2 separate regions of the Homo sapiens genome follow, and region 2 is linked to region 1. Evidence: fine-mapped expression QTL. Tissue or cell type: whole blood. Region 1 holds a variant in brackets; the other region holds the start of a gene. All regions are shown on one strand. Distances are between the middles of the regions.

Region 1 (5,223 bases):
AATTCAGTGGGGTGAGTGGTAGGTGGTGTCTCCCCTGTTAGGAGAACTCTGCGTGAATCATTCTGGGAATCATTCCTGGGGGTCCCTCTGGCACCCTCCTCCAGCCCATCTGGTGGTGCTATAGGCACCCTGTTCCATGGGTTAGATTGTTCTCTGCTAAAGGTGCCAAAGCACAGGCTTCTCTTTCTACAGTGAACCCTGACTGATGCAAATGTGTTGATTTCCCTAACCCACCTTGTACTCTCACCCCATCCCCAGAGGCAACGCTCCCTTCCAGTTGCCCCAGGGTCACTCTAAACCAGGGTCACCTGTGGACTGCAAGTCCCTAAGTGAGAAGTCCAATAAGTGGCATTATCTCTGGCTCCTTACAATCACAGAATCATTTTAGAGTAGGAGGCAGGGTCTTCATGGTACAGTGAATGTCAGGAGTCCCAGACCAAAGTTCCAAAGACTTTTGGTCGTACCCTGCTACCTGCCCTGCCAGCCATGTGACTTTGGGCAAGTTGCTTAACCTCTCTGAGCTTTGGCTACTGCTTCTGGAAACACTAATACCTGCCCAACCTACCTCCTCCATTGTTGTAAAGGTTAAATGAAGTTTTGGAGGTGAAGGCACTTTGGGAATTATAAAGTACTACGCAAATATAAGAGATTACCAGACTCTATCTTGAGATTGAGGGTGTCAACTATGACGTCATTTGGGTTAAGTTTGAAGGGTCTGGGAAAGGATGAAGCTCATGTCCTTTAAGGAATCAAGCTGGCCATTCTCTGAAGCATGTAGGAAAGGAAATCCTCCTCCTCCAGGGAGATGTTATTCAACACACCCAAAGAAAGTGTTCTTCACAGGTAAGGCAGCTGTTGGCTTAAATTAAGAACTTCGTTTCTGAAACGGAGATAAATAATTGGCATTTGGTGACGGGGGTGGGCGGTGGAAGAAAATCAATGGCCTGAGCCCCTCATTCAGATTGATGTACTGCGCATGGCTGGAGGGAGCTCACTGGGGCACTCTGTGGTGGCGCCCTGGGTGGCAAGCAAGTGACAGGCCACTAGCCAGGACCTGCCCATCAGTCCTATCATGCAAACAAACACCCTTCAAGAGGCTACTGAATTGCAAAGGGAGAACGGCTCGATGCTAATCAGAGCACAAAGAAGAAAATTAGAGGGTGCAAAAGTTGCTGTTTTCACAGAATTCCGTGGAGCTTTGAAAACGGAAAGGCTGTTTGTGTTCATAACCACCAGCCCTGTCTCCTTTGAAGTTCAGGCCCCGCCTTCCCCTGCTATGGCTGCCCTCCTTCTTGGCTCTTGAAAATGGCTATGATAGGTGTATTCTCTTCCCCAAAGAGTGGGGAATGTCAAATTACGTTATTATGTTTATTGTTCCAGAGTGCCTGCCGAGAGCAGTCATCTCCAATTTGGAAGAGAGTCTGCTGCACCTGAAGCTCTGTCTCCTCGCAGGTGGGAAGAGATGTTTCACATGCTAGTATTCTCCCTCTCCAGTGTGGATCCACCCCCGCCACCGCCCCAAACTTGTTACCCCTAACACATGCTACCATGCAGACCTTCCAGGCAGCATGGAAAATACCAGCGCCATCTTTCAGAAGGCCTCATCTCCACTTGCCAGGAGCCCCGACACCACCCTTGGAGACACGGCTTGTTCCAGGTAATCAGAGTCTTCTGGTTCAACAAGCAGAGGAGCTGGGATTTTCCATCCTAAAGAGGATGTGGCCGGGATGGAACTCCATCACCATCCTGAAGCCACAGCAGAGGTGGCAGGTAACAGACAGTCCAGAGCTGCTCACTGTCTTCATACATGACGTGAGGACGGTGGTTCCAGTGCGCCGCAAGGTGGGACTGAGGTTCAGAGTTGAGAGGAAACAATAGGAAGGGGCTGAGATGCTGCAACAGGTCACGGGCTGCTATTGTAAACACTTTTTTAAGGATAGGTTCAAATAAGAGCTTCTTGGCTTGGAGAACTGAGGGGAAGTATGACTAAGAAGTATTAGGTTGGTGCAAAACTAATTGCAGTTTTTGCCATTAAAAGTAATGACAAAAACTGCAATTTCTTTTGCACTAACCTAATATTCTGAGGACAAGAAGACATTTAATACCACATGACTTTTTTTAAGTAAGAGGTCTCATTTTCTAAATAACTTGAAAATAGAGGCTCTCCAAGGGTTCCGTTACAGGAGAGAATAATCAGAGGTGAAGAAAACCCATTTAGAGCTGACTCCCTTTCCCAGGGAATGAGCTTTTGGTCCTCATAGACTGGCATCCTGCAGACACGCAGAGAGAAAGAATAAAGCCTGCCTGTGC[ATTGT/A]TTGTTTGTTTGTTTGTTTGTTTTGAAACAGAGCCTCACTTTATCGGCCAGGCTGGAGTGCAGTGGTGTGATCTCAGCTCACTGCAACCTCTGCCTCCCAGGTTCAAGTGATTCTCATGTCTCAGCTTCCCATAGCTGGGATTACAGGCATGCGTCCGTATCCCAAATTTTCATATTTTTATGAAATATGGTGTTTCACCATGTTGACCAGGCTGGTCTCGAACTCCTGACCTCAAGTGATCCACCTGCCTCAGCCTCCCAAAGTGCTGGGATTACAGATGCGAGCCACCATGCCCGCCCCCCCACCCCCCGTGCATTGTGCCTTTGCTCTGCACTAGGCACCCTATCAAAACTTGAAGATCCTGCCCTAACATAAGCCTCATAACGACTGTGAGGTGGGTATTATCTCCACTTTACAGGTAAATAAGATAAAAACAGAATAGTACTTTCCCACCCAGGATCACATAGCCAGGAAGCAGGGGAGTCAGAATTTGACCCCAAGCTGTGTTCTTAACTCTTCCTGCATGTAAAACATTCCTCTCCTTACTAAGTGTGACCTGCAGAAAAGTCACCACATTTCTCAGAGCCCCAGTTTCCTCTCTATAAAATGGGAGCATCAACACCTACCTCTCCTTCTGTGGTTTGGATATAATATACATGAAGTACCTAGCATAGGTGACTGACAGATAGAAAGTATTTACTTAATGGCGACTCTTTTTGAGAACAGAAATGACCATGAGCCCATTATCTGCCCCCTCCCACCCTCACGGATCTGCTTATCTTCCTTGGTCCTCCGTCTCACTGAAGGCAAGCATGTATTTGGCTCTGTTTACCTTTCCCTCTCTCCTGTGACTGGTGGCAAACATGAAGATCCCCCAAGAGCCAGCTGCCAGCCAGAAGCCTGCCTTCTTACATGACCCCATGGCAGCAGGGCCTGAGAGCACTGGTCTTGGGTGGGATGGGGTTCAGAGCAACTCAGGGCTCAGGGATAGGGTAGCAGCGCTCCTTGTCAGGGCCTGGGGCCAGGGGTGCATGGGCATCAACAGGACCCAGTGTGAAGTGGAAGGTGCTAGGATCAATGCTCTAAAATCCTCTTTGCAAACAGATACTCCTCTGTTACTTGCAGTTTGTCCTCAGTTTATAATCAGGAAAACCTGTTGATTGCAATGACTGTAGCTCCAATCATATATTCATCAGGATGTCATTAGTTCTTTTCTCCTAAAGCCCCAGAGCTGCATCCCCCTACCCTCCCTGATGCCCTAGAAAGAGGAGTGCTAGCCCAGCGGGACATCCAGTTGCCCACCACCTCCTCCAGCAGCTCCCGGCCCTGTGGGTGGCCACATGCCAGCCAAGCACTGGGCTTCTGTGACCTGAAGCTGCTGGATGACTTATTTCCTTTTAATAAGACTCCTAATTTGATCTCAATTTCAAAAAGGCAAAATGATGAAGGAGTTCTCCCTGGAGACATTCTGCCCTGTGGTCTGATTTTGCCCTGGGGCTGGATCAGGCTTTCTTGGCTGCTCTGAGGCTCAGCCCTGGCTTAGGTAGGAGGGAGCCTTAGGGTGCTGGCAAAGCAGGGAACAGTGGGCTGCCGATTACCTCTGCCAGCCACCCCAGCCTCAGATCTCCCCAGTTCTGGAGCAGGGCTCCTGTCACCAGCGGGTTGGAAGGAACTGCTTTAAATGAGGGTGGCTGCCTGCCAGATGTGCTGATTCAGCTCAGCCTGAGCATCACTCCATTGTCACATCTGTCCCCAACTTTATGTTTGGGCTTCTTATCTTCAGCAGCTCTGGATGCTCATTTAGATCCCTCAACTCCCCTCGGGCAACAAGCACACACATACACACACCCCCACACACACGGAATTCATCTCGCTGCTGCTGGGAGATGAATTTGCACATTAAAATAGGTGAGTTAACGTGCAAGGTGATTTACACTAGATCAAAGGCACAGCAAGATAGTGAGAATTATTGGAACAAGAGGCTGAAGAAAAGGCTCCTAGAATGTCCAAGCTGAAAAGTATTCAGGGATCATCTAATCCTCTACAGTCATCCCTTTGTATCCACCAGGGATTGATACCACAGATACCAAAGCCCTGGGATGCTCAGGTCCCCTATATGAAATGCATCATATTTGCATATAACCTACATACATTCTCATATACTTTAAATCATCTCTAGATTGCTTATAATACCTAACACAATGTAAATTCTATGTAAATAGTGGATATACTGTATTTCTTAAAATTTGTATTATTTTTTATTGTTGGAGTGTTATTTTTATTGTTTTTTCCCCAAATATTTTTGATCTGCAGTTGGTTGAATCTGCAAATTTGGAACCCGAGGGTACAGAGGGCTGACTGTATCTGCTTTGTTGGAGTCCATCTGATTCATTGTCTAAATACAATTAATTGCTCCAAAATGGCTAGTCCATGCCCCCTTATTTTATAAATAAGGAATCTGAGACTCAGAAAGGCCAAGTGAAGTATCTTCAATGTTCTTACCTTTGTTCAAGAACCCTCTGAACTAATGGTCCAGAGTGGGGTAGGGACTCCAACAAGACCCGGAGAGGCAGGAAGCTCAGTGGTGGGAGTGCAGGCTCAAAGTCCTCCTCCACCTTGCTTTAAATTTCATAACCTCGCTTTAAGTTTTAAGTTTCATAACCTTAGTGAGTGGCTTAGCCCCTCGATTGCCTTGTCTGTAAAAGGCAATAGGGGAGATATGATACCCACTTCTTAGGTTTGTTGTGGGGATTAAATGAGATGATTTCTATAAAGCTCTCATCACCGTACTTGGCACATGGAAGCCCTGAGGAGATGGGCACTCCTGTTGTGGTCATGTTGGTTGAGCATACTTCCATAGATGGCCCCACCCGGCCATCCCTATATGCTCTTTTCTGGGGTTCTTAAA
Region 2 (5,223 bases), 55 kb before region 1:
AACCACTTAGCATGTGATGACTATTTGTCAAGTGCACCCCAGGGGCCTTCCGCTGCATCTAGCACACTACAGGCCACTCACACTAGCTGAACAAATGTGTGAGTGAATGGTTAGGTGGTACAGTCAGTTGTGGGCAGATACCTCTGGAACCTAGGAAAGGAGTTTAGTGAAAAGAGTAGTAGGATAGGAAGTAAGTGATTTGGAACTATTGGCCTCAATGTGATAAGAAACACCCTGAGGTTGGGGACCATAGGCATATAGCCTTCATGTATTCAAGGCCTCACAGGCCTAAGAGGAAAATGGGGTGATACTAATGGTGATAACCAAAACATCACTGGTTCTTGTCTCCATCAATTCCCACAGGCTGGAAGGTCACTGTGAAGTACCCTATATCTTTCTGAGGATCCCTATGGTGTGCCTAGCCTGTGCTCATCAACGTCCTTGCTCCTGCCAGGCACCTACACTGTCTGCTACTTCTCCTGAGGCACCTCATTCCCTTGGGACAGCCACTGTGACCATGTCCTGCTGGGATCCCCAGGTCTCCTGCTGCAGTTGATGAGCCAAAAGACTCACTCTGCTGATGCTGTACCCATTCAGCTGCCAAGAGGAGCAGAACATCCGTGGCCCCTTTGTGTTATACTGCATTAGAGGGGTACCCAAGCAGGATGGTATGTGTACCAATGCATCATAGAGACTTCAGCCAAACAGCTCTTCTGTTCTCTACAGGACACAGGCATGCATCCTATGGGGCCTAGGCCACAAGAGAGTCAACAGGCTGTACTTGGAATCAACACTAGAGCTAGCTGGCCATGCCTGGATCCCTCTCCCCTCTGGCGAATTCCATCTCTAGGGGCTCCTTGTTCCCTGCCAAACAGGTTTCCATAAAGCACTCATTTGCCAAGAAGTTCCGGGTGTTTCTGACCGTGAACTTAAGCTCAAGTTTCCCCTAAACCTGCTTTTTTTCCATTGGTAACCCTGCACATAATACTCTGAGATTTTGTTTAGAAAAACAGACTGAAATTTCTTTAGGGCTGTGTGCATGTATTTGGGGCATGAATGAATGTGCCTATTAGCTCATTCTGTTCTAAACCCTATGATTCCCCGGATGTCACGTGCCACCTGTTCCTACTGACTAGGTACCAGGCACTGAAACCACCATTGCAAAATTATAACTGAGATGGTGAAAGGGATCTGACCTAACCGACTCCATCTTGCTTCTCATCTCCAAGCTGTCTTTGTTCATTCCTAGGCATAGGCCAAACTAACTTTGGGGGGAACTTAGTTTATAGTGTAGCTTTGAAACAAAGACAATACCAGCCCTTTCCCAAACAAACCCCCTTCTTGCCCAGGAACTAGACTGCCTTTTCAGGACTAACAAATTAGCCACAAAATTAGAAATTATGGTTTAGGAGTCATGCAGCTAGAGGCTGCAAGATTCTAAACCTCAAATTGCTCCTGGGGATAACATCAACTATTGTAAAACCTAAGATCAGTGCTTAAGATATTTCACAGACACTGCACTCGATGGATCAGCTGGCACCACCCAGATGAATAAACTGGCTCATCTGGTCTTATGACCCCCACCTGGCAACTGACTCAGCACAAGAGGACAGCTTTGACTCCCTGTGAGTTCATCTCCTAGCCTACCAATCAGCACTCCCGACTCACTGACCCCTACCCACCAAATTATCCTTAAAAACTCTGATCCCTGAAAGCTAGGGAGACTGATTTGAGTAATAATAAAACTCCGGTCTCCCTCACAGCCAGCTTTGTGTGAATTACTCTTTCTCTATTGCAATTCCCCTGTCTTGATAAATCGACTCTGTTTAGGCAGTGAGCAAGGTGAACCTATTGGGCGGTTACAGCACTTTAACCATAAACCTTATGAGAAAGTGCCATTTCTCCATTTCACAGGTGAGAAAACTGAGGATTAAAAAGGTTACTCAAATAACTTTCCTAAGGATAAATGTGTGAGTCTTCTAACTCACACATTTATCAATGAACAAAACCGGATTCACAAGTACACTGGAGACTTTACATTTTGGGCAAGGATATTAAGCTAACGGGAGTGAGACAACCCTTCTTCAGTAGAAAAAAGGCGAGCAGCAGGCGCTGCTTTAGTTACCAGCACTTTGCTTCCTCCGTCTCCCCGCGCCAGGCATCGGGCATCCCAACCTCGACTTTGGCCTTCAACTTGGCGCGCTCCGGAGCTAGAGCTCTGCGGTAGCGAATCTGATCGCGTGTCCATGCCCGCCCCCTGTCCCGCCTCCTGGCTTTTGACCCCGTCCTTGGTCCCGCCCCGGGCCCTGGCTCCTGGCCCCGCCCTTGGTCCCGCCCCGGGCCCCTGGCTCCTGGCCCCGCCCCAGCCCAGGCAGGTCACTGCGCCATTTCCTGTCCAAAGCTGGGCGAATCAGGTCGGTGCCGCGGGGTACCCCGGAATCCCCCCTGGGAGCTGGTCCTGCACTGGCCTTCAGAGCCGAGCAGAGGACGCTGCTTTGGGCCCCAGAGCATGGGAAGGTCTTGGCTGCGGTCTGGGACGGCTGCGGTCTGGGACCTGCATGGAGGGCCCGGGACTTGCGGACGCCTGGGAGCGGTTGCTGGGCAACAGTGCGTGCGGCCTGGCCTCTTTGCGCCCGGCGGGCAGCGCGCGTCTGGGGCAGGCTCCGCGCGGGGCTCGGGCACAGGTCCCCGCTGCCGCAGCCCTACCGAGTGAAGCACTGAGCGCGGCGCCGCTTCGCCATCACCTGGCTCTGGCCCTCTCACCCTAGCGTAGGGGGGCACTGGCCAGGCAGTGAGGACCCTGAGATCCATGCCCTGGGAGACAGAGGTTGTCTCCTGTCCATGCACCCGCGCGCCTGCCTTCTAACCTTCATACCGTTGGGCAGATTAATTCACTGGACTAGGCCTCTGTTCCGTGGGAGTTGAAAAGATTTGACCTGGAAGAAACCCTAGCGATTATTCAGTTAAGCCGCAACCCCACCCCCTGTTTTATATAGGTAAGGGTGCTTCACGGTGAGGACTCGTCGCGTGCCTGGTGCTTTACATCAGTCCCCAGAATAGTCCTCGTAGTTTCTCTCTTACTGTTCCCATAGTATGGGTGAGGACTCTGAGGCTCGGAGAGGTTGTGAATTTAGCCAGAATCACACAGCTTGTAACTGGTGGAGATGAGGACACTGAGACTCGATTAAATCACTCGTAGTTTGTTCGTGGCAGATTACGTGTTAGAAGCGTGTTACACTACTATGAAACCTGGCCATAAATGAGAATCACCTGGAAAGTGTTTAAAATCTATATTCGTGTCTGGGCAATGTCCCGGGTTTACTGACTTGAAATCTCGGGCTACGGCTGAGGAAGCTGTATATTTAACAATCTTCCCGATGATTTTTATGATCTGTGGATGAACCACTGAGTACTGCTGGGTACACCACGGGGCCTTCTCGCACAAAAACAACTGTAAAATAATATCTGAGGTACCTAGAGCAGAAGAGACGCTGGTGAGCATGGTAACATTATGTTCTAATCCCTTCAGTCAATTTGTACCCTTTCTTCACTCTTCAGAAACAAGCCAAAGGCAGATTTTAAACAAGTATGGACATTTAGATGCAAATTGCCCCAAGTTTGTTACCTGTCACACATCCACATTTAAGCTTCTGACTAGACCAGCCTGTCATGATCAAAGTCAGGTGTTAGTGTATTTCTCTATCCTTGGCAACCTGTCATCTGCTCTCTTCTCATCTCCATGCCAGGTCCCTAAATCGCCGGGGTTGATGTTGGCTTTGGAAGAACTATTTGCAGAGCGTTTTCTGCACTGGAAGGAGGGCTGGAAGCTTTCTGGAAGCATTGCCGCACGTAAATGAGTGCCTCTTGGCCTAAAACAGCAGTTGGAATGAAAGGGATCACCCTGCTGTTATTCATTGACATAAACAAAACTGTCATAAAAATAATCACTTGGCTCTTAGTTTTAGAAGGCTAATAAGCCTGACCGTTCTGTTTAGTGCTTTATTATTATTAATTTCACCATTATGCTGCATCCCTTAGGGATTCCGGTTCACAATGGATGCTGATAAAGAGAAAGATTTGCAGAAATTTCTTAAAAATGTGGATGAAATCTGTAAGTACTAGTAAATCATAAATTAATTTCTGCTTTAGAGAAGTGGAGTAGATAAATGATTGCTCTAAGTTCCTGGGTGGCTTGACAGGTTTATAACTCTTAGGAAAAAAATGTAATTGAAATTAAAGAGAAGGGTATTGAGAAACAAGTTATAGCCTCAGGGCTGTATTTTCTGGCTGTTAATTGGTATCAGAGAAACTGTTAACATTCTGATAGGAATTCAGGCTGACGGTTTTCTTCCATATTTTGTATCCTTCTATGTGGAATCCAGTCAAAACCAGCTGCTGTTTCCCCATTGACAATGAACCCAGCTGTTCCCTTCAAGGGTCAAGAACCTCATTGATCAGTGTGAGATTCCTCCCGTTTTAGAGTAGAGCCATTTCTGTTTTAGAGCTGCAGAGGCAAAATCAAATGGCTTTCCTTTAGGATCCATCAAATTACATGGATGGTTTATGATCATCATTCCCTTCTCTCTCTCTAGACAAGAAAGTCCTTTCCCAAGTTCAGGCAGGTTGGATCTCAAAGAAATGTACTCTGATCCCACAGATCACATTCAGGAATTTCCAAACCTGTCAGTCCCTGTTCAGGGAGCTTGCTTGAGTATAGAAACAAACAAACCAACAAGCAAACAGACCTTACATAGTAAATACAGGCAATATGCTGAAATTGCTGCTTGTAGCAGATTGTATGGGTTCAAGGAATAAAGTGGTTTTAAAGCTAGCTTGGGTGACATCGTAAATGATACATGAATAATGCTTATCCCTGAATGCTGTTCCATGGAGCTCTGGCCTTGGCCCACTGCCACCTTTCTCTTCAGCTGGTCTAAACATGTAGCTTTACCTGCCACCTGTTTGTTCATGACCCCCACATCTACATGGACACTTAGCCTTCTTTTCTGAGCCTCTGCCTCTATGGTACTGTCATACCTACTGTATCCCACAAATAAACTTAAATGTGTCCAAAATTGAGGCATCATCTCTTTCCCTCCCCTTTGCCCTCCCCCTCCCAAATAAAACCTGCTTCTCCTACCCTCACCTTCATCCTGGTCTCAGTTGGTGACACCACCATCCAGAAATTTACAGGTCATCTGGGACTCCTCCCAACTCATAACC

Evidence for each region. PIP is the estimated chance that this variant, and not a neighbour inherited with it, causes the effect.
Region 2: it holds the start of TTC12, and the variant in region 1 is fine-mapped to the expression of TTC12 in whole blood (TOPMed, PIP above 0.99).

The regions. Positions count from the first base shown.
Region 1 is chr11:113,366,807-113,372,029 of GRCh38, forward strand. It overlaps a transcript of TTC12 not described here. Among named protein-coding and RNA genes, the nearest start is that of ANKK1, 18 kb to the right of the region's middle. The variant ATTGT/A (reference allele first, on the strand shown) is at 2,311.
Region 2 is chr11:113,312,205-113,317,427 of GRCh38, forward strand. It overlaps TTC12 (tetratricopeptide repeat domain 12), which reads left to right and starts at 2,379. Exons shown (of 22, transcript NM_017868.4): 1 at 2,379-2,414; 2 at 4,039-4,111. The coding sequence starts at 4,054. TTC12-DT (TTC12 divergent transcript) reads right to left here and starts at 2,252. Exons shown (of 5, transcript NR_199709.1): 1 at 2,126-2,252. RefSeq lists silencers at 2,190-2,439, 2,463-2,757, 2,650-2,749.